Linked DNA regions of Homo sapiens. The protein of the gene in region 1 purifies or fractionates together with the protein of each later gene. This does not show direct contact. Each region holds a gene or a part of one and is shown in the gene's direction. Other genes may lie near its edges. The genes, in order: ENSA, PPME1, SCCPDH, TES, IREB2, CNKSR2 and MTMR4.

Region 1 (4,057 bases):
ATGATCCACCCTCATCGGCCTCCCAAGGTGCTGGGATTACATGCGTGGGCCACCGTGCCCAGCCTTGTTTTGTATTTCTAGTAGAGACAGGGTTTCACCATGTTGGCCAGGCTGGTTTCGAACTCCTGACCTCAAGTGATTCGCCCGCCTACGCCTCCCAGAGTGCTGGCATTACAGGCGTGAGTCACCGCGCCCAGCCAGGCCTGTAAGCTTTCTAAGGGCAGAGACTGCCTTACTATACACGTACCCCCCCCAACTAACACAGTACCATCCACATACAGACAGACGCCCAGGAAATGTTAAACTGTAATTCTGGATAGGTTAACTAGTATTAACCGTATTTACCAAATGTTTACCACATACTTACACTGTCCTCCTTGTTTCAAGGAGCGTAGTCCCCAAGGGATCACCCTGATGGAATATAAAAACTACACATAAGAGTGAAACTACGGAACGTAAGCCATTAGTGTTTTGCAAGACAGCTCGGGTTGAGACTCAGTCTCTCTCTTCCACAGGCCAAGTGACACATCGTAATACCATTGGTACCGTTTTATTTTATTTTTCGCGACAAAGTCTCGTCCTGTCACCCAGGCTGGAGTGCAGTGGCGCGATTTCGGCTCACTGCAACCTCCGCCTGCAGGGTTCAAGCGATTCTCCTGCCTCAGCCTCCCAAGTAATTGGGATTACAAACGCCCGCCACCACGCCCGGCTAATATTTGTATTTTTAGTAGAGACGGGGTTTCACCATGTTGGTCAGGCTGGTCTCGAACTCCTAACCTCAGGTGATCCGCCCACCTCGGCCTCCCAAAGTGCTAGGATTACAGGCGTGAGGCACCGCGCCCGGCCTGTTAGTACTACTTTAAAATCGAATCTGACCTCCAAATCATTTTCTGGAGCTCGATCATTTTCTGCTAACACCGCAAAGCTTAATCCTCTCCACCTGAGAATAAAAGGTTCCATCCTTCCGCTCTCCAGTTTGACGCCCTGCTAAGTCTCTCGGACGCGGTGGGCTGGAGTGAAGGAAGCCGGAGCCCACCAAAGCTGCAAAAGTACCACAGCCAGCAGCCCCGCCCCCGATATCCCCCACAGGCTTCCAATTGGTCCTTGTGGCTCACTCTCTTTCCAGGTTGGTGTTCCAGCTTGCCGGTCGCCTCTATAGAGCCCACCTTTAGACGGCGACTATTGGTAGATCGTTACGTCATTGCCCTATCTACCTCACTCCCACTGGCTCTCATAGGAAGGGGCGGTCGCAACGTCACGGGCAAGGGCCGCCATTTTGACTGAGCAACCCTAGTGACAGGAGCCGAAGCAGCAGCGCAGGTTGTCCCCGTTTCCCCTCCCCCTTCCCTTCTCCGGTTGCCTTCCCGGGCCCCTTACACTCCACAGTCCCGGTCCCGCCATGTCCCAGAAACAAGAAGAAGAGAACCCTGCGGAGGAGACCGGCGAGGAGAAGCAGGTGAAGTGGAAGGGGTGCGGGCGGGCGAGCTGGGGAGACCGTGATGGGGCGGGAGACGGTCTCCCACCAGTGCGGATTGGTCGCCATGGTCTCAGGCTCCGCAGGGGTTGGCCACTTTTTGCGTCACGCTGGGTGAGCTTCAACACGACATGCTGCTTTGGCGCTGGTTAGTTGGGTCGTTTGTCACTCAGTACTGTACTCTTCCTGATTGGCCAATAGGCCTACCGCTCAAACCTTGGACGCTGTGCTATAATTGGCCGAGCATGGACGTGGGGCGGGTGGTTGGAAAGACGGTGAATGGAAAGGGGATGGCTGGTGGTCTTGGGTGTGATGTGTGTTATTGGTTTGTAGAGGTAAGTGACCCAGCAACCGGGCTGGGGCCCGCAGCCTCAATCCGCAAAGATAGGGGTCGAGGTAAAGACGTTTAAAAAAAAACCAGTATTGGGGGAGGGGAGAAGTGTAGTTATTATAATGGCTAGTTTAAGGCGGCAACTTTCTCAAGAGACCTATTTTAGTAGCTAAGGATGGTCTATTGCTCACCTTCAGTGAGGACCCAGCAATATTGAAGAGGGCTAGAGTTCCAAACAGAATCATGGTAATTAAACTTGGAAAAGACGCCGACAGGGTCGTGAGAAAGACACTTCTCTCTTCCCCTAGACTTCCAAGGCAGGGACTTAGTGCACCTGCGATTCCGTGATGGAAACACTAACGCCAAATAAACCCCTTATTGGGGTTTGTATTTGACTTTTAAAATTTAGTACTGGGTTCAGGTACTCATTAAATACACTTGGTGTTATATCTATGCGTAATTTCCAAGAGAAAGGAATATAATTCCACTAAAAAGAGTCATACGTTGACTTCATATCTTTTCAAAAAGTCACTAAAGGGCAGCAGGGACCACAAAAAAAAAAAAAAGAGATTGACTACAGTAGTGAGAGTCCCTGCACCACCAGGGTAGGTATTGATTTTTTTGATGAAAACTGGTGGGTAAATACTAGTGAGCCTACTGTATCTTTGTTTTCCTGAGGTTAAAAACAGTATCATTTTCCTCTCTGTTTATCAGCTTGCTACCATAATATTTGTGGAAATGTTGAAGCAAGGCTGTGCCATTACTCAGGTGGAGATCTTTGGAGAAGGCCACATAGCTAGCCGCCTCCACAGGGAGACCTAACAGGTGGCTTAGACCTTGAATAAAGAAGGAACTGCTTTGTCGTGTAGCAATTTTAAAAAAGAAAGAAAAAAATAAGGAGGAAACATTTAGCAAACTATTTTTTGTTGTTGTAGAGACGGGGTTTCAACATATTGCCCAGGCGGGTAGTGAATTCATGAGCTCAAGTGATGCACCTGCCTCAGCCTCCCAAAGTGCTGGGATTACAGGCATGAGTCACTGCTCCCAGCCCCAAACTATTTTTTTTTTAATTTCTCATGTGACATGTAGGATAGCCTAGGGAACCCTGCTACTCATCCTCTATCACCAGAAGCCCTGCTTTTTTCTCTTTGTCTTTCTTAGCATTTGTGCTGAGTGATATGGCCCACTCTGTGATTAAAGTATTGTGTTTAGTATTACCTTTAGCCCAATACGCACAGGTCCCTGGCTGGTTCCTTGGGTGAAGTGTGAGAAGCAGCTTGTCTTTTTCTCTCACAATAGTCATCTTGAGCTTTAGGGATTTTAACAAAGGTCTAGCTTTAACAGCAGAGTAGAGATAGCGTATTTACAAGTGGGTGGATTTCCAGGAGAAGTTGATAGTATAGTTGTTATCAGATGTGAGAAGCTGTTGTTTCTCAGTCTTTAATTTTATTTGGCTCATTTGTTTTCTCCAGGACACGCAGGAGAAAGAAGGTATTCTGCCTGAGAGAGCTGAAGAGGCAAAGCTAAAGGCCAAATACCCAAGCCTAGGACAAAAGCCTGGAGGCTCCGACTTCCTCATGAAGAGACTCCAGAAAGGGGTATGGGGCATAGTCTCTTACCCTCTTTCTTTGGAGCTAAAGGAGGTTCTTCGAATGAAGTCTGTAGAGGTTCTACTGGATCCTTTTCTGGAGGTTTTGTTGTTGAACAGAAGTAGAGGCGAATTTGAAATTTGAAAAGAGCAAGTCAAATTAATGTAAATCCCTGATGTGGTATCAATTCCCTCCTGATTTCCCATGTAGGAAATTAAGGCCTAAATTGGAGCATTTGGGTGTGTGGGGAAATGAGGGAAAGATGTTAGAAACTGAAATGCAGACTGCCCCCAGGCATTTGCCTGTTTGAATGTTGGAGGTTTTAGGATTGTGCACTTTTTAAGCATTAGAGATAAATTTTGGGATGCATCATTTCAGAAGAAGATCAAACCATCTCTCCTACAGAAATAAATCCTCAACTTGAAATGAATCAGTTTCTTCATACCCTTGAAGTGAGCACCAGCCATTAATTATACTCCTGCAGCAAATGTATTTTTCTTGTTCAGAGTGGTCCTCCTTACCAAGAGAGAGTCTACTTTCATAGCCATGTAGCTCCTGATCAGATTTTTAGTTCCCAAAGGTACCTAAAGCTGACTGAGGGATTATATTATCGTTTTTTAAAAAAAAAATTTGGCCAGGCGCAGTGGCTCACGCCTGTAATCC
Region 2 (3,500 bases), on another chromosome or scaffold:
GTGAGACCCATTGTGTATTTTGGAGTCATAATTGTCATCTGGGGATACTTATTTTGAGTTGTGTATCTTACTCATTTGCATATAATCTAGGATTCAGTCTTTTTCTTCAGTCGTAATTTATGAAGTCTCACACCAATTTCAAAGCATTCTTTATGTCTCCTTATGCTTACTTGCTTTTTTCTTAACTTCCATTCTTCCACTCTATCTATGTTACTCACAAGTTAGTCCTGTTCTCTTGATAGTCTCTTGTGTGGCTTACTCTTAACTATTTTTCATGATCTCTTGCCTTCAATTTCACTAAACATTATTTAGGCATGTTTGCATATTCAGGGTGCATATTCTGAGTTGGTGATTTTTCATGAGTTTCCATAATTCAGTTTTTCAGATTAGATTTAGTAATTCCAAAGTATTGTTGGATAATTTAATAATAGCAATTTTTAAAGTAAGTACTGTGTGCCAGACATTGTAATGGTAACTTTATGTTATTTAATGTGTCCACAGACCTGCATGGTGAATATTTTCCTGCATTGTGGGTAAAGACATTCAGACCCAGAGATTAAAAGTAACCCAACTAGTAGGTAGCAGAGCTAGGATTCAATCTAAGTTTAGTCTCTAGAATCCATTCACTTTTCAGTACACTAATATTTTCTCTTGGGTAAGGCCTGAAATCCTGGTGTCACTCTTCCTTTTAATAGATGCCAATGGATGTTGCCAAAAACAGTGGTTTTGAACTTCTTTATTAAAGCTTTTAGAGCTACTCTGACTAAAGTAGATTTGAGATCCCTATTTGCTTTGCACCCCTGGTGTGCTTGAGAGAAGTATCTTTTGAAAGTCACTGCTTTCGTATATACTATTACTATTAGAGGAACTATAAAATATTAAAGCCATTCATTATTCAACGTGTTTTTGGTTTATCAGTAGTTGTACTTTTTGGCCAGGTGTGGTGGCTCATGCCTGTAATCTCAGCACTTTGGGAGGCCGAGGCGGGTGGATCACCTGAGGTCGGGAGTTCAAGACCAGCCTGACCAACATAGAAAAACACCGTCTCTCCTAAAAATACAAAATTAGCTGGCGTGGTGGCACATGCCTGTAATCCCAGCTACTCAGGAGGCTGAGGCAGGAGAATCACTTGAACCTGGGAGGCGGAGGTTGTGGTGAGCCGAGATCGCGCCATTGCACTCCAGCCAGGGCAACAAGAGCGAAACTCCATCTCAAAAAAAAAAAAGTTCTACTTTTCTATTATTATCTCTTAAATTCCTTTTTTTTTCTTTTGCAAGAGATAGAGTCTTGCTGTGTTGCCCAGGCTGAAGTACAGTGGCTTTTCACAGGCATAATCTTGGTGCATTACAACCTCAAACTCGTGGGCTCAAGCAGTCTTCCCACTTCATCCTCTTGAGTAGGTAGGACTGAGGATACATGCTAGCATGCCCAGCTCTGTAGTGATTTAACTGACATGTATATAGTAGTCCCTTTTTATATTCTATGAGGTAAACTAGGGCAGGAGTTAATATTTTCTTTTAATAAATGAGAAAACTGAAATGTTCATTGACTTGCCTAAGATCACAGAATCATTATGTGGCAGGAACAACATTCAAACCCAGGACTTCGTATTTTTAGTCCATTGTTCTTTCTATAGCTTGCATTGAAGGGTTTGATATTTGAAGTGACAAAGATCTAAGTTTGAAGCCCAACTTAGGTATTTACATTGGTCGAGTCATTTAACTTCTCATAGTCTATTTTCTTATCTCTAAAATGAGAATACTTCTGCTTACCTGAGAGTGCTGTGAGAATAAGATAATACATAAAAAGCACTTATAGTTCCTGACACTGACACATAAGCTCTTAAAGAATGATAGCTAGTAGATAATTATACATTGAGAACTGTGAAGAAGGTTCATAGTTTATGTGGAAGCTCTCCTTTCAGTTTCTTATGTTATCAGCTTTTTTGTCCCCACAAGCTGTATGTTTATTCATATCTGATTAGATAGTCTTTCATCCATCTTCTTAAATTTATTATGGATATCAGGCCTCTTAGGAAGGCTTTAATGAGCTATTCACACAGATGGGGAAATAAAGGGCAAAGTGAAGTGATTTGCTCAAGGTCACAAATTGAGTTACTAAAATAATCAAATCCCAGTATTTCTGTTTTTTTTTTTATTTTTTCATTAGATTTTTAAAAAGTTAAATTTATATGCCATAGAATTCACTCTTTTAAATGTACAATTCAGTGATTTTTGGTATATTCACTCAGTTGTACAATTACCACCACTAATTGCAGAACATTTTCATCCTCCCATAAACTCGTTACTCATTAGCATCTTCCCTTCCTCCCAGCATGTATTGCTTCTGGATCTTGAGTCACAGAAAGGCTTTTCCTTTTTTTGGGTTATAAAGGAATCATTTATATTTTTTCCTGGTACCTGTGTAGTGTCCTTTTTTTTTTTTTTTTTTTTTTTGAGACAGAGTCTTGCTCTGTCACCGAGGCCGGATGGAGTGCAGTGGTGTGATCTTGGCCCACTACAACCTCCACTTCCCGGGTTCAGGCGATTCTCCTGCTTCAGCCTCCCAAGTAGCTGGGATTACAGGCATGCACCACCACACCCAGCTAATTTTTGTATTTTTAGTAGAGACGGGGTTTCATTATGTTGGCCAGGCTGCTCTTGAACTCCTGGCCCCAGGTAATCCACCCACCTCAGCCTTCCAAAGTGCTGGGATTACAGGCATGAGCCAATTTTTTTTTAATCCATTTGAAGTTTATCTTGATATGCAAAGTGAGGAAAAGAAGACATTTTATTTTTATCCAAAGGCTATCTAGTTGTTTTCATCATTTATTAAATTTTTTAGTCCTTTACCCATTACGTAAATTTCACTACAATAAAGAAATAGTCCTGGCCAGGCTCAGTGGTCCATGCCTGTAATCCCAGCACTTTGGGAGGCCAAGGCATGTGGACCACTTGAGCTTGGGAGTTGGAGACCAGCCTGGACAACATGGTGAAACCTCTTCTCTACAAAAATCACAAAAATTTAGCTGGGTGTGGTGGTGTGTGCCTGTAGTCCCAGCTACTCTGGAGGATCATTTGAGTCCGGGAAGCAAAGGTTGCAGTGAGCCAAGATAATGCCCCTGCACTCTAGCCTGGGACACAGAGTGAGACTTTGTCTCAAAAAAAAAAAAAAAAGTCTTCTTTCTCACTGATTAAAATGACACCTTTGTCATATGCCAAATTTCTATATAAATCCGGGTCTGTGGAGTTTCTTTTACGTGCCACTACTGTACTTTTAATTAGAGGATTTATTAATATGTTTTGATGGGTGGTAGAGGTTGTTTACCCCTCATTCATTTTGAGGATTTTCGTGGTTCCTCTTGTTTTTTTCTCACAAATAAACTTTCTAATCCCATAGACTAGTGCCAGAAAAAAATCCTGATAGTATTTTTATTGGGATTACATTAAATACAAACATTAATTTAGAATAAACGTTTTTATGATGTTGAATGTTCCTTG
Region 3 (3,500 bases), about 96 Mb from region 1:
TAAGGAGTTGGGCACGTTGGCTCATACCTGTAATCTCAGCACTCTGGGAAGCCAAAGTGGGTGGATCACTTGAGGCCAGGAGTTTGAGGCCAGCCTGGCCAACATGGCGAAACCCCATCTCTACTAAAAATACAAAAATCAGCCAAGCATGGTGGTGCACGTCTGCAATCCCAGCTACTCAGAAGGCTGAGGCATGAGAATCACTTGAACCCAGGAGTTGGAGGTTGCAGTAAGCCAAGATTGCGCCACTGCACTCCAGCCTGGGCAACAGGGTCGGATCCTGTCTCAAAACAACAACAACAAACCTATTAAAGAACCAGAGGGCTGGGTGCGGTGGCTCACACCTGTAATCCCAGTGCTTTGGGAGGCCGAGGCAGGCGGATCACGAGGTCAAGAGATCGAGACCATCTTGGCCAACATGGTGAAACCCCATCTCTATTAAAAATACAAAAGTTAGCTGGGCGTGGTGGTGCACGCCTGTAGTCCCAGCTACTTGGGAGGCTGAGGCAAGAGAATCGCTTGAACCTGGGAGTCGGAGGTTGCAATGAGCCAAGATCATGCCACTGCACTCCAGCCTGGCGACAGAGTGGGACTCCGTCTCAAAAAAAAAAAACCCAGAGTATTTAAAGAACTTTTACAAGACAATAATAGAAATAAAGACAATTTATTTTAAAAATGGGCAGGGGATGTAATCCTAGCACTTTGGGAGGCCGAGGCACGTGGATCACCTGAGGTCAGGAGTTTGAGACCAGCCTGACCAACATGGAGAAACCCTGTCTCCACTAAAAATAGAAAATTAGCTGGGCGTGGTGGCAGGTGCTGTAAACCCAGCTACTCGGGAAGCTGAGGCAGCAGAATCGCTTGAACCCGCGAGGTGGAGGTTGCAGTGAGCCGAGTCTGCACCATCGCACTCCAGCCCGGGCAACAGTGCGAGACTCCGTCTCAAAACAAAACAAAACCAAAAAGGCAGGGATGAGAAGAGACAAATCTTCTTTGTGGAAGAATTCCAAATGATTTATGTAGCTTCTCCACATTTATGTGCAAGCAGCTGTGTGTGTGACTGAGTGTGTTAATGTGTTTGTATGTGTGTGACTATGTTAGTGTGACTTAATGTGTTTGTGTGTGCATGAGCAAGTGTGTGTGTGTGATTGTGTTCGTGTGTGTTTGTGTATGTGCATGAATGGGTGTGTGTGGTGTGTGTTTGTGTCTGGTATGTGCTTGAACAGGTGTGATTGTGTTTGTGTGTCACCTTCTGGGAGAGGGAGCATAAATTGACAGTGGAGAAACCTGGTGAACACTGCCTCAGCCAGGTGTTCAAGTCAGCATTAACCCTGGTAAATCATGTTGACAGTGCGTAGCCCCGATGTGATATGATATGATAAGAATAGCACTTTACCCCTGTGGTCTCTTTCCAAAACTCATAATAATAATGAGAAAAGCATGAGACAAATTCCAGTAGAGGGGCACTCTACAAAATGCCTGACCAGTACTCCTCAAAACCATCAAGGTCATCAGAGACAAGGAAAGTGTGAGAAACCGTCGCAGCCAAAAGAAGCCGAAGGAGACGTAACAACCGAATGTAATCCTGGATGGGATCCTGGAGCAGAAAAAGGGGTTCAGTTAAAACTAAGGGAATCAGAATGAACTGTGAACTTTAGTGAATTAAATCATATATGTCAGTACTGGTTCATTAATTGTAACCACTGTTCATGTAAAAGATGTTAAAAATAGAGAAAACTGGGTTTCAGAGTACTTGGGAACTCTCTACTATTCAATTTTTCTGTAAATCTTAAACTGTTTTTAAAAAGGAATTTCTAAAAACAGGCAGAAGAGCAGAGCAGACATTATTCCCCTGTGCCCTCTGCCACCATCTACTTTCCTGCTCTCTGTCTGTACGTGTGCGGAGCTTTATGTCTGTGATGATGTTCATCTGGGTAATGCTGTTTGGGGTCATTTTTTTTTTGCTTTCTATTTTTTATATTTTAATATTTTATAATAGGCATTACTTTTATATTTAAAAGTCATTCTAAAAAAATTAAGTGTCATACAGTCAGACGAGCACAACTTCTGTACCACCTGGTGTGCAGTAGGCGCTGTATTTGCCGAATAAGTGGAAAATATTTTGACAGTTAATGTTTTGCTGCAGAGCCACACTGCTTAGCATTTTCAAAGTTTGGTTGCTTTGTTTTTAAAGATAAATTATTTAATACTGGTCTACATCTTTCTGCATAACTAATTAAAATTCTTATCCTGGATTTTTTAGTTTCTGGAACTAATGCAACTGAAGTATCATGAGAAAGCTGCAGACAAAGGGGTTTATATCATTGGAAGCAGCGGCTTTGACTCCATTCCAGCAGATCTGGGAGTAATATATACCAGAAATAAAATGAATGGTAATTATTGATCAATAAGCAATAATGGAATTTAACAGTACCGTGCAAAGGCTTCATGTTTCTAACTGTGGTGAACTAAAATCTAGTTGAAAAAAGAAACATAGCCATAAATGGGTAATATTAAACACATGTTTTGTTTTTAATATAGCTGCACTTTTAATAAAATGCTATTGAGACTATTGTTGAGACATGGATAATACTGTATTTTACAGTGATATATTATTGTCTCAGTATAGTTTGGGCTGTAAAATTTCTGGAAAACAACTTTGGCAACGTTATAAATTCAAACTTGCTTTGTTTAGGAATCAGCACATTTTAAAGCATAATTTGTATATTATAGTTAAAAGGTTTTAAATTTTTAACCGTCAAAGCTAGAAAGTATTGAACACAGAATTGGAGACACTTATTTAAGAATGGAGAAAATAATGTTACGATAAAACATTTGAAGTTACTGATGTTTTGCATATTTAAGAGTGTCTGGTTTAGAAAATTACCTGAGCAGGGTGTGGTGGCTTACACCCATAATCTTAGCTACTTGGGAGGTTGAGGCAGCAGGATCTCTCGAGGCCAAGAGTTCAGGACCAGCCTGGGCAACATAGTAAGACTCGTCCCTAAGAAATAAAAAAAAATTAGCCAGGTGTGGTGGTGCACACCTGTAGTCAGTCCCAGCTCCTCAGGAGGCTGAGGTAGGAGGATCACTTGAACCCAGGAGTTTGAGGCTTTAGTAAGCTATGATTGCACCACTGCACTCTAGCCTGGGTTACAGAGTGAGACCTTGTCTCTTAGAAAAAAGCAAAAAAACAAAAAAACAAAAACAAAAAACAAAACTGAAACAGGTAACTTCAGTACCATATAAAGTGTTCTAGACTTAAAAAATTGGAAAATGTTCCAGCATATATTAAAAAGTTAGCATAACTATGAAACCAAAGTCCAACAAAGATAGCACACACACACACAAACTACAAATCTTGCTTATGAAATTAAAAGTAAAAAGAAAATACTATATAAAATTTTAATCCAGTGCCATTTTAAAAAGTTTTTTAAGAGACAGGATCTTGCTCTGCCGTAGCTCACCGTAACGAATGCCTGGGCTCAGGCAGTGCTCCC
Region 4 (3,500 bases), on another chromosome or scaffold:
AATTCTTGGTTTGTAAAAGGAAAGCTCGTCCACATCAGTTGTACAAATTGGGATTAATTACCAGTTAAAACCCACCATCACAAAGACAAGGGGTTTTTATAATTAGATTTTGCTATATTTTGTTTTGTTTGAAGAAAGCGAGCTGTTGCTAGGATGTGGGAGCTAGTTTGGTTATACAAAGTTTTTGTTTTAATAATACTTTAGAACAGAATTGATTCTATGTCCTTGCCCTGTCTTCTGAGTTACACATCTAGACCTCTTTCTTATTTTTTAAGTCTCATCTTAATTGGCTTTGTGTCAGTATGGTCCATGTCTGCTTGGGAAAAACAGTGGACTTTGAGAAGCAGAAACAGTCTCATTTTGCGGTGAATGGTAAATCATGGCCAACAGCCAGCTGTTTTCCTCTTTCCTTTCTGTGTTACTCTCCCATGAGAAATATTTTTTTTCAATTAAGAACATACCAACAGAGAAAGAGAACTACAATAATTTCCCTTTTACTGCCTGGAATTGCTGCAGGGCTTTTTCATTTTACCGTGTTCATTTTTTCTCTCCTCTAACCCCTTTATTTTGATTAATCCTAATATTTTGCATACTTTTCTTAAGACTCTTATTTCTTTAATTTTACTTTTTAAAAATATGATGCATTTTAAAGATTACATGTTACTAAAAATCCCCTTTCTCTGTATCCAAACTTGTTTTCAAAACCTTTGTCATTAGCCAAAAAAGCATAGTGAAACCAAATGAATACTATTGGAAAAAGGACTAAACTACAAAGATTATTTCCATTGGAAATTAGAATGAGTTATTTGCCTTAGGTAGCCCCTGGTTGAAGTGGAAAAGGCAATATATGGTGACCTGGATGCTCAAATCTACAATTGCATTCCAGGCTTGAAGCCATTCTTGCTGCAAGAACCATTGGCAAGACTAAGGGTAAAGGTAGGGCAAGGCACATCCAGGGCTTTGCTTTAGAGGTGTTCTGCCTCTCTGAACAAGTGCAGAAGAAAATGAGTGGTCCTCGGCCAGGCTTTTATAAAACTATTCTAACCCATGGTGTGATTCATTACATTGGTAGAATATGAAAAGTCCCTTTCTCTTAATTGTCCTGAATATTGGTTGGAGAAAAAAACTATAGTAGGTTTTCTATTGATTCTGTTCCTTTATGCTGTCCTATGAAGTAGAAATAGGAATTTATATTGCTACTGGCTATTACCTATGTCCCATCAACTCACCCTATGACTTTGCTTGTGCATGCCCATACTCCATCTACAGTTCTAAATTTTTTCCATCCTTCAAGGACCAACCCTTCACACTGCACACTCCTCTAGGAAATCTTTCTCCATGCTGCCACCTAGATGAAAAATATTTTCTCCTTTTCTCCTGAATTCCCAAAACATGTTATTGGTAACACTTAGGACACTAATCACTCTCCACCTCTGGATTATACTTATCTGTTGTATGTTTCACCTTCTTACCTTGCTTACAAACTTCTTGAGAGATGAATCCATATCCTGTTACACTTACGTGGTTATTTTGTTTGCTGTTCAAAGCAACCTTAGGAAGTAGGCCTTAGCCCCATTTTCAGGATGAAGAAACTAAAAGTTTAGATAGCGTAATCTGAAACCTTACTATAGAGAACTTTACTATGAACTTGAACCATAATTTGAAGAATCCATGCTGCTTCCATCATGCCAACTAGGCCGAGTCTTATATTCTTCATCTTGCTCACTAAATATATGTGGAATGATAACTGTTATAAAAAGAGAAATAAAATAAGGTACATTTCAACACTTTCACTCATTTTTTAAAGGAATTATATTTGAGGAAGTGGTTTATATTCCAATAAAATCACCATCCTGCTAGTTTTCTATATTTTGTTTCTACTTTGTCCATGTTGTATGTATTCCCTTTAGTGTAAGTTGCCATTGACATTCTTTGGGCAGAGGCAAAGTATACGAAAAGTAAAAGTATTGTGAAAAGGAGTTTCTGGGAAACTTCTACAGTCAAAGAAATAGCATAAACTCCAATAATATTCTGTACCTTATCTTCTAAGATTCTCCCAACTTCCTGACTTTTGGTGTGAGCCAATGGTAATGCTGTCTCCTAACTATGTAAAATGGCCCTAGGTAACAGTGACCCTGTATTTGGCTCTTTGTTTTGTTAAGTTTAACCAATGGCATCTGGAACTATAAAGGGATGCTCGTGGTCTTTTCTCGTGTTGAGCTCTGCAGTTGAGAGAAAGCCTTACACATAGCATGAGTAGGCTAAACCTCTTTTCCCTTGTAGCAAAGTGTTCAGAGTGCCTCTGGAGTGGCAGACCAGACAGCTAAGAATGGAGCAGCTAAAAAGAAACAAAAAACAAACAAAAAACCTCTTAATATTGGGAGAACTATTTTTTTGTTTTAATTTCCCATTCTTCATGCAAAAACATTTCTTATGAAGCTGAGAAGCTGTGGGAAACACCAAAATGATCAGATATTTCATGAGGCTCTCATGGAGCTCCAGAGTGACATCCAGCATTGTTAGCATGCGATCAACATCATAGACCATCAGTGTGCAACACGAGTTACCAAGAGGGGCTTTCTTAGTGGAAAGAGAGTGATAAATTGGTAACATGGAAGCTACTTCCTGTGTTCTTTTTCTGAGAACTAGAAGAAGGAATACAAGTTGGCCCCATGCTAATGTGTATATACCTTTTTTACATACCAATCACTAGTGTGTTTAGAAATTAGGAAAGGTCAGTAAGTCTCCAGTATATATAAACATCTATAGTGTATGGAAAGGTCTTCCATAGTGTATCCGTTTTCTCACTTCCATTTATCAGTATAATATATTTAAAATTGCCCTAAGCTGAGAGTTGGTAGATCCGAGTCCACTATTTTTTGTGATATTAACCACTTTGGCTATCAATTTCTATTTATATAAAAATCAGTAGGGGAACCAGATGATTTCTGAGGTTTCTCCAAGTCCTGTGACTCTTTGATCGTGGGAAATAATATCAGTAGTCTACCATGTGTAATGTTCCACAGTGCTTTAAAATCACACAAATGAAGAACATATATGTATAAATATATACATAAAGGAGATGGCATAGTTTAAATGTTAGTGAATTCCATGAAGAACCTATAGATTGAACCAAATAATTTTTTTCCACAAATCTTAGCTATTTTCAACTTGTTTGTACTTAATTTTCATAATATTTGTGGAGGTATTTGAAGATATTAGGTTAAGTTTAATTAATTTAAATCTGTAGTATAAGGCTCTGAAGGCTGTAATAGTGTGGGTCCCATAAGTCTAGGAGTGATGTATTACTTACCTTGGTATTTAATTATGGGAAAATGAAAAATAATGGAACATTTATTTTCTTTAAAAGTTATCTCTCTCAAAATAAGGCTGTTAAAATAATTTTAAAAGATTAAAAAAAAACTATATGAGTGCTTTTTTACGTACCATGCACTGTTCTAGACTCTGGGGTTATAGTTGTGAACAAGAATGACACTGAA
Region 5 (3,500 bases), on another chromosome or scaffold:
AATTAGGCTGTCATTTAAAAATAAACAGTTTGCCAAAATGAGAGCAATATCCTTTACCTTGCATGTTTAGCTGCAGTGATTTGTGTTGATACGTTTGTTAAAGGAAGTTGGTCATTTTCTTAATGTATGTCTTTCACATTAATTTTATCCCTTCACTGATGGTGAGTTTGCATTAATTTTGAAAAGAAACAGCTAGATTGATCGTTTACAAGAATAGTCATTTTATTTCCCATTTACTTCTCCAAAATAATCTAGTGATACTGGCTTGGAAGTCTTTTAACCCAAATTTCATAGTTTAATAAATTAAAGGAGCACATAAGATGTTTTGAAAATTGAGTATAAATACTTTCTGTGTATAATCTGTAGAAATGTGCTTACTTGAAGGAAGATGACCTAAATTTCTCAAATTTAAGGAATCAGTAGGAAACTGTCAAAAACAACTGTAAAATGCATTGAAAGGGAATGATTGATAATCTGAAAGTTAAATTTTCCCTGGGAAATAAGTTGTCATGGGAATTTGTACATAACTGTACAGAGTACATGTGTACTTAACATAATTCCAGAATTACCAGTTTTTATAACCATGATAAATGTAATAATAGAATACCTGTGACTATAAATACTTTCAAAACAGAAAGTTGGTTTTTATGTGGGGTCAGTACCCTGGTTTTTATTTTATTTTATTTTATTTTATTTTACTTATTTTTTTGAGACAGGATCTTGCTCTGTCACCCAGGCTGGAGTGCAATGGTGTGATCTCAGCTCACTGCTGCCTCTGCCTCCTGAGTTCAAGCGATTCTCGTGCCTTAACCTCCCAAGTAGCTGGTACTATAGGCGTGCATCACCACACCCAGCTAGTTGTAGAGATGGTGGTTTTACCATGTTGGTCAGGGTGATCTCAAACTCCTGACCTCAAGTGATCCACCCACCTCAGCCTCTCAAAGTGCTGGGATTACAGGAGTGAGCCACTGCGCCCAGCCCCTCCTGCTTTTTTAATAGAGTGCTTATTATGAGAGGTTATTAAGTAATAATTACTTAAGTAATTTCCTAATAAGGAATAAAATTTGAAGAATTGACTTTGAAAGAAAGGAACAAGTTAGGTAGGAAGTATTTGGTTGTTTAACCTTAGAACAAAAAATCCTTATTGCATTTTTGAAAGGATCAGATTGAATTGCCTCCTAGACATATGCTTACAAGAAGACATTGCTTTGGTAGTCACCAAGGTACAGAGCCAGTCTTCTCCACCTCCATTCCACATTTTGATGCCTGCTAGGTTGAGAATGACTGTTGTAATGAGTAACGATTAATGAAGGGAATGGATTCTATCCCTCATAAATGTTACAGAGTAAAGATAGTTGAGAAACACTGTTCTAAGCTCCATGCTGACTATGTCAGGGATGCCTGCAGCTGCAAAGAACTGAAAACTTGCTGTCCAATGACTTTAAGAAATACGAGTTTATTTTTCTAACATAACGAAGTGTGGAGATTGGCAGACTGGGGCTGTGCAGCACCAATCTCCGCAAGGATCTAGGCTCGTCCTTTCTTCCCGTTCTGTTTTTATTCTTTTGGTTGCACCTCCAGGCATTATGTCCAAGTTAAATTTTCCCTGGGAAATAAGCTGTCATGGGAATTTGTACATAACTGTACAGAGTACATGTGTACTTAACATAATTCCAGAATTACCAGTTTTTATAACCATGATAAAAGCCCTCTCCAGGGGCTTTTGCCTCTTTGGCCAAAGTATCAGTGGCCACTCTTAGCTTCAAGAAGGCTGAAAGATGGAATAATCAAGGTCTTCTCTTACTCATGGGGGATATGTTCCAAGACCCTCAGTAGACACCGGAGACTATGGGTACTACCAAACCGTGTATGTACTGTTTGGTATATATTTTTTTCTATACATACATAGCTATGATAAAACTTAATTTATAAATGAGGCACAGTAGAGATTAATAATAACTAATAATAAAATAGAACAGTTATAACAATGTACTGTAATAAAAGTTATGTGAATATGGTCTTTCTCTTTCAAAGTATCTTATTGTGCTGTTCTGCAGGTAACTGAAACCACAGAAAGCCAAACCATAGATAAGATGGGGTACTGTATTTTACCTTTACATCTTTTACAATAGAGAAAGGAAAGGGAGAAGTGGTTGGGAGTGGGTGGTGAGTGAACCAGCCTAATCTATCTGCGTTACCAACCTGATGCCTTCTCTTATTCTGACTTTAGATAGAGTTCAACACAGATTATTTGATTTCTGCTTTTTTACTGCCATTTTATCCTTTTGCTTCCCAAATTTATACTCAGGGTATCTCTATGGAAGTGGGCACATCTTAGACATTGATTACATTTTGATCTTGTATGATTTTGCTTGTGGGGAATCTCCTTTGTTTTTTTATTTTTTGTGGGGTTTTTTTTGTTTTTTGTTTTATTTTGTTTTGTTTTTTTGAGACAGAGGCTCGCTCTGTTACCTAGGCTGGAGTGCAGTGGCATGATCTTGGTTCATTGCCACCTCCATCTCCAGGGTTCAAACGATTCTCGTGCCTCAGCCTCCCAAGTAGCTGGGACTACAGGTGTGTGCCACCACATCCGGCTGATTTTTTATTTTTAGTAGAGATGGAGTTTCGCCATATTAACAAGGCTGGTCTCAAACTCCTGACCTCAAGCAGTCCTCCTGCCTTGGCCTCCCAAAGTGCTGGGATTATAGGCGTGAACCACTGCACGCAGCCAGTTGTGGGGAATCTCTTTAATATTCTGGAGCTGGCTGTCTGGCACTCCCAATGTGCTGACTAGAAACATGTCAAAATCTAGGTAGTCTCAAAATGTAGATTTTGAGTAACTCTTTAAAAAAAAAAATTATAAAGATGGAGTTTTACTGTCAACCTGGCTGGAGTGCTCTGACATGATGATAGCTCACTGGAGCCTTGAACTCCTGAGCTCAGGAGATCCTCCCACCTCACCCTCTCAAGTAGCTGATTTGGGTGACTCTCTTAAGTAGATCTCTGAATTTGAAACTATTGCTATTTTTAAGGAGTGGAGAAATCAGTGGTGTCTCCATGTATGATGGAGGACAGTTAACATCAGAGAATTAGAATGAACAGCATAATGGAAACATGAATGACTATGTTGAATGAAGGGGAAGATGGTGGAGAGACTGGCCTGGCTGGAGTGAAAGGTAGTTTTGAGAGAGTACCTGTTACTGGGCAACAGGGCCTCTGGTGGTGTAAAGCCCCCAGGCACCCTTTATCTCAGGTCATCTTATTCACCCTTTCTTTTGTCCTTCCTGTCTGCTTGCCTTTTTAACCACAGTACTGCTTAGTCCTCCAGTAGAGCCGGGACTTAGTGTCCAAATCCTACCTTGCAGCCTTTGGAAGAAAATCCTGTATTTAATTTTTTAGGAGAGTTTTTATCATTTAGAAGAATCACAAAAAGACAAGAACATTGCAGATGGTACAGAAAGTCTCATTTTTATGTGTATACAAAAATATATGTAAATATG
Region 6 (4,163 bases), on another chromosome or scaffold:
TCTTAAATTTTACTTGTTCGCTATCACTAGCATTGAAATCAGCAGTTAAAAACGTCACAATATTTTAACTACTGTGGTTTCAGCTGTTTGTGTGTGTGTGTGTGGGGGGGAAGGGTGTCGTCAACTCATGCCGGTTAAAGAACGTGACATTTCTGCATCTTATAAAATTGGACTAGAGAAAATGGGTTACCATAGGAACTGGCAAAACCTATTGACATTACTGGAATGCTTATTTAAAAAGTTTCTTTTACTTAATGGACCTATTTAAGAATGATAGAGAAAACGCCTATAACGGTGGCAGAGAGTTAGCATCTACACTCTAGGAATATTTGTCTTTTAAAGTGAAGCCTCATTAGGCAAACTGTATTTTACTAACCGTTGCATAGTAGCCTGTGTATGGTTTTTGAAGAAAATGAGTTTTGAAAAATCATGTCTACAATTTGTCACTCATTTTAAATCCCATTGTTGCCCTTCGGTTCTTATTAATATATAAGAATATCAAACACAAAATGACTTCTCTAAAATAGGTACTTTAGAGGAGTTGGCCCAAAACCTGAAACAGAGCCCTTTAAAATGGTACTTGGGGCAGAACCTGTCTCAGGATCACCACAACCAGCAGCTGGCAGGTGACAGCCTCAACGCCTGACTTCCCAGGACCCGCTCATCACCCGGGGAAGATCCGACAGCACTAGCCCTCCTGCCTCATCATCGCTGCGCTTCTGGCAGGCGGAGCCCCGTTCTCGTCCACGGCAGTCCACACCTCCGTCTCTGCAGGCGTACGCGGGTCTCGGGAATCACCTCCGGAGCCCACTCAGCAGCGGGGAGGGCGAGGGCGAAAGCGAGAGCCAGGAAAGCCCGGGCTCTCGCTGTAAGCCCCGCGCTCAGTGGTGTCCCCCTCCCCTCGGTGGTGGGGCCGCGGATACCTCCTCAGCCGCCTCAGCTGTCGGAGTTCAACTGGTGGGCGGCCCGTCCCGCCGTGGCCGCCACCGCCGGGTCCCCTCAGAGGCCTCACAAAGCCATGCTCCAGCCGCCCGCACCTGATTGACCGACCCCGGGCTCTGGCTCTGCCTCGCGCCGCCACCGCCTCCGCCGCCGCGCACGCGCACTTCGCGCGCCTCTGTTCCCGGACGGCCCCCAGAGCGGGAACGCCAGGCTGCGAGCTGCTGGCACCTGTCTGCCTGCCAGACAGACCCTGGGCTCCGGCCTCGTGCCGGCACGCGCACGCGCACGCGCCTCGCGCGCCTGCCGTCGGCCCTGGGGGCGGGACCGCGCGGCAGCGAGCGGGCGGGGGGCTCGTGGCGCGCGCGCCCCGCACCCGAGGGCTGCGGAGAGATATTTTGGGTGGCAGGAGGCCCCTCGTCATTTCCGCCGGGCAGCTAGTCGTGCTCGGGGCTTCACTCCCGCGCGTGAGGCGAGCGGGCAAGTTGGCTGAGGGCGTGCGGCAGAGGCTGCTTCCCTCGGCGACGCGACCCCTCAGCAACTCAAGCTATGAACTGAAGCTCCCTAGGGACGGAGACCGGAGCGGAGCGGCGGAGGCAGCAGCAGCAGCAGCAGCAGCAGCAGCAGCAGCAGCCGCCGCCGCCGCCGCCTTAGCGGGAACTGAGCAGACCCGGCGCGGAGCCACGACTCCTGCACGTTTACCTCCCTGTCGCCGTTCCTGCCGGCGGTTGGCTAAAAGACGTTACAGCCGCGAGACCCGACACACAAAAGCCGCTTTCTCCGCGCCGCCCGCCCAGGGAGGCTGCGGCCAGCAAGGGACCCCACCTGAGAGCAGCTCGGGCTGCTGAGTTCGTTTTGTGTCTGAGCTCTGCGCTCTGCACGGAACCGACCCCGTACCCATGGCTCTGATAATGGAACCGGTGAGCAAATGGTCTCCGAGTCAAGTAGTGGACTGGATGAAAGGTAATGCCCGCTGCGGGGAGGGTGAGGCGGCACTGGGGCGCGGGGCACCAGTGCGAGGTTAGGAGGGGGCGCCCGCCGCGCCAGAGCCCGCCACCGCGGCTTCCACTGGCGGATCGTCGTACGCGTCGGGGCGGGGGTCCTCCAGGACTGGCAGGGGCCTGGGGTCCCCGGTCTCCTTTTGTCTCCAGCTAGAGGGGCGCGGAGCGGCCAGAGAGCTAGAGGGCAGCGGGCGCCACCCCGTTGGAGGCAGGAAGTCGGGAGGCAGAATACCGGCGCATCTTGCGTACTCCCCTCTCCCCTTACTGCCCCCGGGCCAGGAGGACGTGGCGACCCTTATCTCCCAGCTCAGGGTGGACTCCCCCAGGACCTGCTCCCCTGGTCGCCCTTTCCTGGCCCCTTTGTTCCTGGGAAAGCTGACGCCCCCTCGGCGGCCGCCCTTGCCAGGTGCCTTCCCCAGCGCCAACTCTCCCAAGCAACTTTTAGCCCACATAATGGGGTCAGGACGCGGCCGCCCCCATTCGGAGCCTGGCATCCCCCCACACCCAGATTTGGCTGAGGATGCCCAGGGTGGGGGTATGTGCTACTTTGAGGGTGAGGACATCATGCTTCCCCTGGGACAGCATCCTTGCTGCTGTCTCTGGGCTGCCTCCAGCGCATCCCCTCGCATCCTTTGCCTTCTCTGCTTTCTCCCTTTCAAGCCAGTCGAGGTTTTGGACCTCACGGCTTTTTATTAAGGGCTCAACGCCAGATGTAAGGTGATGCGCATTCAGGTACCTTCACATTTCTTCCATCTTGAAGGTTCCCCCTTTTGTCCCTGGCGATTTATAATAACCACAGTTATAGACACTCACCCTCCTAATCGCAAACGTGAGCTTTTTTTCTGATCCCTGGGCTTTCCTGTCTCACTACCTCCCTCTGTTGTCTGAGTTAAGGGGCTTGTAGAGGACTCCCCCACCCACCAACCCCTTGGATCCTCAGGCCCAACTCTTCCCTAAGATTTTGGGAATTGAAGAGGGGATGGATGGGATGGAATGGAATAAAGGATGCGTGGCCACACTTGGGAAATGTTAGCGCTTTGCTCGAGGTCATACCTGAGCAAACTCTAGGTAGATCAGTCAGGGACCAAAGGCTTATTATCGCTGAAAATGCCCGTTCCTACGATGAAGGAGCCCCTTCTTGGGCTTACTTAACAGTCAGACTTTCTAAGCTCCAGATAATTTAGAACGAAAGGTGAGGTGATTGGGAGGGATTGAGAGTGACAGGGAGAAACTGATTTTTTTTGCTCATTCTTTTCCCCAGCCTTTTTGGCCGCTTGCTTATTCTTGTGGATTTTTCTTTATTTTGCTTTCCTTTTATTCCCTTACTTGCCCCTTTATTCCTCATTTACTTTGCTTTTCTTTTCTAATATGTGGAAACTGCTTTGTAACTGCTAAGCAGTACAAATGTGAGTGAATTGAATTAAACCTAATACATTATTTATCGACTGCACCCCTGTGTGCAGTGCATTGTGCTAAGGTGCCATGGGGGATATAAAGATGACTAAGACAAAGTCCTGCAGTGGCTCATCTTTGCTGCTGCTTTTTCTCTTTATGTATTTGCTATTGAAATTCCAATATCTTAGATTCCCACCAATTATCCTCACTCTCCACCTTCTCCGTTTCTCAGTGATGGAAGAAAGAGCCAGAGTATATACAGGAAGCAACAATGCTTAAAACCCCGTTCTTTGAATTTGTCTAAAAGGTTACTTTAGTTTGAGTCTGTTGCTGAAATATTAAAAGACAAGCTATCTTGGCTCCATGGGAGTCTGATTACCTTCATAGACTACCTTTCGCAAATTCCCATGATGCCTGTAGTGAGTGCTGCATACTCAGTCTCCACCTCCCACCCTCCCAGTTATATTCTTGCAGTTTCCCCTCTCTCCATAGTTTAGGTCCACTGAAGCAAGTAGAATATATGATGCACCTATTCTGACACACATTATTAGTTGTCCAGTACACCAGTCCTTTAAAAATCTTTCCAGCCTAAAATGTGGCTTCTTTGAAGTTAGGTTAACATTGTTAGCTGTGATTTGAAAATTTTTTTTAAATGTAAGTCGAATACCTTGTTTTCATACCTGTTGGTGACGCATTTTAGAGCTATTTGAAAAGATCAATTGGGTAGCCAAGATAGTTTGTGTATCGTGTATACATATGACTGGAAGAGAATGAATGATATAATTACCTGTATATTTCAAATCCCAGACTACTTACTGCTGAAATTTC
Region 7 (3,500 bases), on another chromosome or scaffold:
GTTTTAGGGTCTTTTGAACTAAGTCATTGTGAGGGGACCGTGATAGGTTTCAGGATTTCAGTGATTTTTTTTTTCCTTCCCCAAACTATGCAGAATTTGGCTACAGGTTCATAGGTTTACTTTTCCTGGGAGAGGGGCCATAACTTTTAATCAAATTTTTAATAAGCTCTGTGACCCATTTAATAATCATTTCATTAACTTAGTATCTGATTTATCAATTCAACAAATGTTTCTTTAATACCTACAAGTTGCGTATTACTGTACTAGGTTTTGTGGGCTACAGCAAAGAAATAGAAGATATTGGTTCTACTTTCAAGATAATTTTAAGCTGTAAGATAAGACACAGAACAACTAGAGAGAGCAATTCTTTTTTTTTTTTTTTTTTTTTTTTGAGACAGAATCTCGCTCTGTCACCGGTTGGAGTGCAGTGGCGCAATCTTGGCTCACTGCAACCTCCGCCTCCCGGGTTCAAGTGATTCTTCTGTCTCAGCCTCCCGAGTATCTGGGACTACAGGTGCCCACCACCACACCTGGCTAGTTTTTTGTATTTTTAGTAGAGACGGGGTTTCACCATGTTGGCCAGGATGGTCTCGATCTCTTGACCTCGTAATCTACCCGCCTCGGCCTCCCAAAGTGCTGGGATTACCAGACCCGGCCAACTAGAGAACAATTCTAAGTCAACATCTAAGCAGATAAGAATGTGTGTAGTTCAGGCTGGGTGCAGTGGCTCATGCCTGTAATCCCAGCACTTTGGGAGGCCAAGGTGCGCAGATTGCTTGAGCCCAGGAGTTTGAGACCAACCTGGGCAACATGGTAGAACCCCACCTCTACAAAAAATGCAAAAATTAGCCAGGCATGGTGGCGTGCGCCTGTGGTCCCAGCTACTTGGAGGGCTGACGTAGGAGGATTGTTTGCTCCCAGCAGGTTGAGGCTGCAGTGAGCTGTGATCATGCCATTGCACTCCAGCCTGGGTGACACAGCGAGACCTTGTCTCAAAAAAACAAATGTGTGTAGTTCAAAGCTTTAGAGAAATGATGTGTTTTTTAAAAGGGTCACTTGGTGGCTGTTTTACTCAGGAAATTTTCATGAAGGACCAGACAAGAACTGTGGGTCTTTTTGTGTTCTGTGTATCTGGCTTAGAACCTGGCACGTAATAAGTAAATTTAAATAAATTTACTAAAGTAAAAATTTACTTAAAACTGGACAAATGGCTGGGCGTGGTGGCTCATGCTTGTAATCCCAGCACTTTGGGAGGCCGAGGCGGGCGGATCATGAGGTCAGGAGATCAAGACCATCCTGGCTAACACGGTGAAACCCCGTCTCTACTAAAAATACAAAAAAAAAAAAAATTAGCCGGGCGTGGTGGCAGGCGCCTGTAGTCCCAGCTACTCTGGAGGCTGAGGCAGGAGAATGGTATGAACCTGGGAAGGCGGAGTTTGCAGTGAGCAGAGATCGCGCCACTGCACTCCAGCCCGGGCAACAGAGTGAGACTGTCTCAAAAAAAAAAAAAACTGGACAAATGAATGAAATAAAGGGAGTTGTGAGCTCAGTAACAAGGTTAGTGGAGAGGGGTCCAAAGCAAGTGGATACATGAGAGGTAGGGTTTTCTCGCTCCATTGCCCAGCTGGAGTGCAGTCACATGATCTTCTCAGCTCACTCCGCCCACCGGGTTCAAGTGATTCTTCTGCCTCAGCCTCCCGAGTAACTGGGATTACAGGTGTGTGCCACTACACCTGGCTAATTTTTGTATTTTTAGTAGAGACGGGGTTTCGCCATGTTGGCCAAGCTGGTCTCGAACTCCTGACCTCAAGTGATCCGCTCACCTTGGCCTCCCAAAGTGCTAGGATTATAGGTGTGAGCCACTGCACCTGGGTGAGAGGTAGTTTTTTTTTTTTTAAAAAAAAAAGAAGTTCTGTGGCTGGCAGGGGTTGAGAAGGGGCTATTTTAAGGAATAGTGGAAATATAGGACAGGTCATTGAGGGCATTGAAGGCTTTAAACATTACAGTGAAGAGTTTATTTTGATTCAGTTGTCAATAGGAAGTCATTGTAGGAAGTTACTGTGGTCTGCTGACAGTGGGATCCTTGGAGAACTAATCAGTGAGTACAGGGTAGCTGGAGGCACAGAGACCAGCCAGCACTGCTGTAGTAGTTCAGATATGAGGGGAAGAGTCCCTGGCAAAGAGAAAGGATTAAATTCAGAAGCACTGTAGAGAACCATTGGCAGGCTACAGAATTGAAAGTTGGAGAGTAGAAGTGAAAAGTACTTTGGGTCCCAAGTATCTGAGCTTAAAAAGTAGGAGAATATTAGTACCACTAATAGACATTGAAAGGTCGAGAAGACCAGCCAGTTTGGGGAGAAAGCGGAGATACAGGGAAATTGGGATTGAAATATTAGTTGACAGCAAAGAAGGAGGTGTGTTGTAGGCAGCTCAAGATGGAGAGTAGATTTCGAGAAATAATTGGTATAAAGATTTTAAAGGAAATGGTCTCTGTAACAACTGACCTGACTTACCTTTGATTCTACCTTTCCCTAGATCAAAAATGTCCTTCTTCTTCTCCTTCTTCTCCCCCTCCTCCCCCTCCTCCCCCCTCCTCCCCCCTCCTCCCCCGCTTCTCCTTCTCCTTCTCCTCCTCCTTCTTCTTCTTCTTCCATTAAAGTCATAAACACATTCTTCTATACCCATCTCAAATCCTACCCTCTCTCTGTAGCCTTCCTTGACCTCCTAGCTGGATGAGCTCTCTCTCCTTGTTGTAAACTCAGGTATTATTATCTCTGTCAACATTGCTGACTAACCTTTGGTACACATAGAATGAGTTGTGGAGGATGGCAGAATGTTGTTATTTGAATTTGGATGAAGAGCACATGGAAGTTAATTATATTCTTCTTTTTGTTGTTGTTTGAGACAGAGTCTTGCTCTGTCACCCAGGCTGGAATATAGTGGTGCGATCTCGGCTCACTGCAACCTCTGCCTCTTGCCTCCCAGGTTCAAGCGATTCTCATGCCTCAGCCTCCCAAGTAGGAGCTGGGTTTACAGGCATGCACCACCATGCCCAGCTAGTTTTTGTATTTTTAGTAGAGATGGGATTTCACCATGTTGGCCAGGCTGGTCTTGGACTTGTGGCCTCGAGAGATCTGCCTGCCTTGACCTCCCAAAGTGTTGAGATTATAGGCATGAGCCACTGTGCCCAGCATATTCTTTACTTCTTTTGTATGCTTGAAAGTTTCCATAATAAAAAATAAAATGAAAGAAGTCAGCTGTGGCACTTAAAAGAATACAGATCCCTAGGCCCCACTCTTGGCCATTCTTATTCAGTAGGTCTTGGGTGGACCCTGGTTGTCTGGATGTCTAAGAAGATCCACTAAGATGCCTGATGTGTATCACACATTCAATTGGCACCTAGCAGTGGAAACCTCATGTTGTATTTTGAGCTCATTCATTCATTTCTCAAGTCATTTGCCCCTGGTACTGTGCTAGGCGCTGGGGATTCAAATAAGACA

What was found.
Region 2: the proteins of ENSA (region 1) and PPME1 purify together in Homo sapiens (affinity purification with mass spectrometry; one large-scale study listed by BioGRID and IntAct). This does not show direct contact.
Region 3: the proteins of ENSA (region 1) and SCCPDH purify together in Homo sapiens (affinity purification with mass spectrometry; one large-scale study listed by BioGRID and IntAct). This does not show direct contact.
Region 4: the proteins of ENSA (region 1) and TES fractionate together in Homo sapiens (co-fractionation; one large-scale study listed by BioGRID). This does not show direct contact.
Region 5: the proteins of ENSA (region 1) and IREB2 purify together in Homo sapiens (affinity purification with mass spectrometry; one large-scale study listed by BioGRID and IntAct). This does not show direct contact.
Region 6: the proteins of ENSA (region 1) and CNKSR2 purify together in Homo sapiens (co-immunoprecipitation; one large-scale study listed by IntAct). This does not show direct contact.
Region 7: the proteins of ENSA (region 1) and MTMR4 purify together in Homo sapiens (affinity purification with mass spectrometry; one large-scale study listed by BioGRID and IntAct). This does not show direct contact.

The regions. Positions count from the first base shown.
Region 1 is NC_000001.11:150,626,813-150,630,869, reverse strand, and holds the start of ENSA (alpha-endosulfine), read left to right. Parts: upstream 1-1,257; 5' UTR 1,258-1,399; coding exon 1,400-1,456; intron 1,457-1,730; exon of another isoform or gene 1,731-1,764; coding exon of another isoform or gene 1,765-1,809; intron 1,810-3,277; coding exon 3,278-3,403; coding exon of another isoform or gene 3,404-3,538; exon of another isoform or gene 3,539-3,824; intron 3,825-4,057. UniProt on the Homo sapiens protein: Protein phosphatase inhibitor that specifically inhibits protein phosphatase 2A (PP2A) during mitosis.
Region 2 is NC_000011.10:74,174,289-74,177,788, forward strand, and holds part of PPME1 (protein phosphatase methylesterase 1), read left to right. Parts: intron 1-3,500. UniProt on the Homo sapiens protein: Demethylates proteins that have been reversibly carboxymethylated. Demethylates PPP2CB (in vitro) and PPP2CA. Binding to PPP2CA displaces the manganese ion and inactivates the enzyme.
Region 3 is NC_000001.11:246,737,909-246,741,408, forward strand, and holds part of SCCPDH (saccharopine dehydrogenase-like oxidoreductase), read left to right. Parts: intron 1-2,263; coding exon 2,264-2,393; intron 2,394-3,500.
Region 4 is NC_000007.14:116,213,539-116,217,038, forward strand, and holds part of TES (testin), read left to right. Parts: intron 1-3,500. UniProt on the Homo sapiens protein: Scaffold protein that may play a role in cell adhesion, cell spreading and in the reorganization of the actin cytoskeleton. Plays a role in the regulation of cell proliferation. May act as a tumor suppressor. Inhibits tumor cell growth.
Region 5 is NC_000015.10:78,441,216-78,444,715, forward strand, and holds part of IREB2 (iron-responsive element-binding protein 2), read left to right. Parts: intron 1-3,500. UniProt on the Homo sapiens protein: RNA-binding protein that binds to iron-responsive elements (IRES), which are stem-loop structures found in the 5'-UTR of ferritin, and delta aminolevulinic acid synthase mRNAs, and in the 3'-UTR of transferrin receptor mRNA.
Region 6 is NC_000023.11:21,373,060-21,377,222, forward strand, and holds the start of CNKSR2 (connector enhancer of kinase suppressor of ras 2), read left to right. Parts: upstream 1-1,363; 5' UTR 1,364-1,838; coding exon 1,839-1,902; intron 1,903-4,163. Other genes in the region: uncharacterized protein LOC105373146, read right to left, coding at 924-1,363.
Region 7 is NC_000017.11:58,497,639-58,501,138, reverse strand, and holds part of MTMR4 (phosphatidylinositol-3,5-bisphosphate 3-phosphatase MTMR4), read left to right. Parts: intron 1-3,500. UniProt on the Homo sapiens protein: Lipid phosphatase that specifically dephosphorylates the D-3 position of phosphatidylinositol 3-phosphate and phosphatidylinositol 3,5-bisphosphate, generating phosphatidylinositol and phosphatidylinositol 5-phosphate.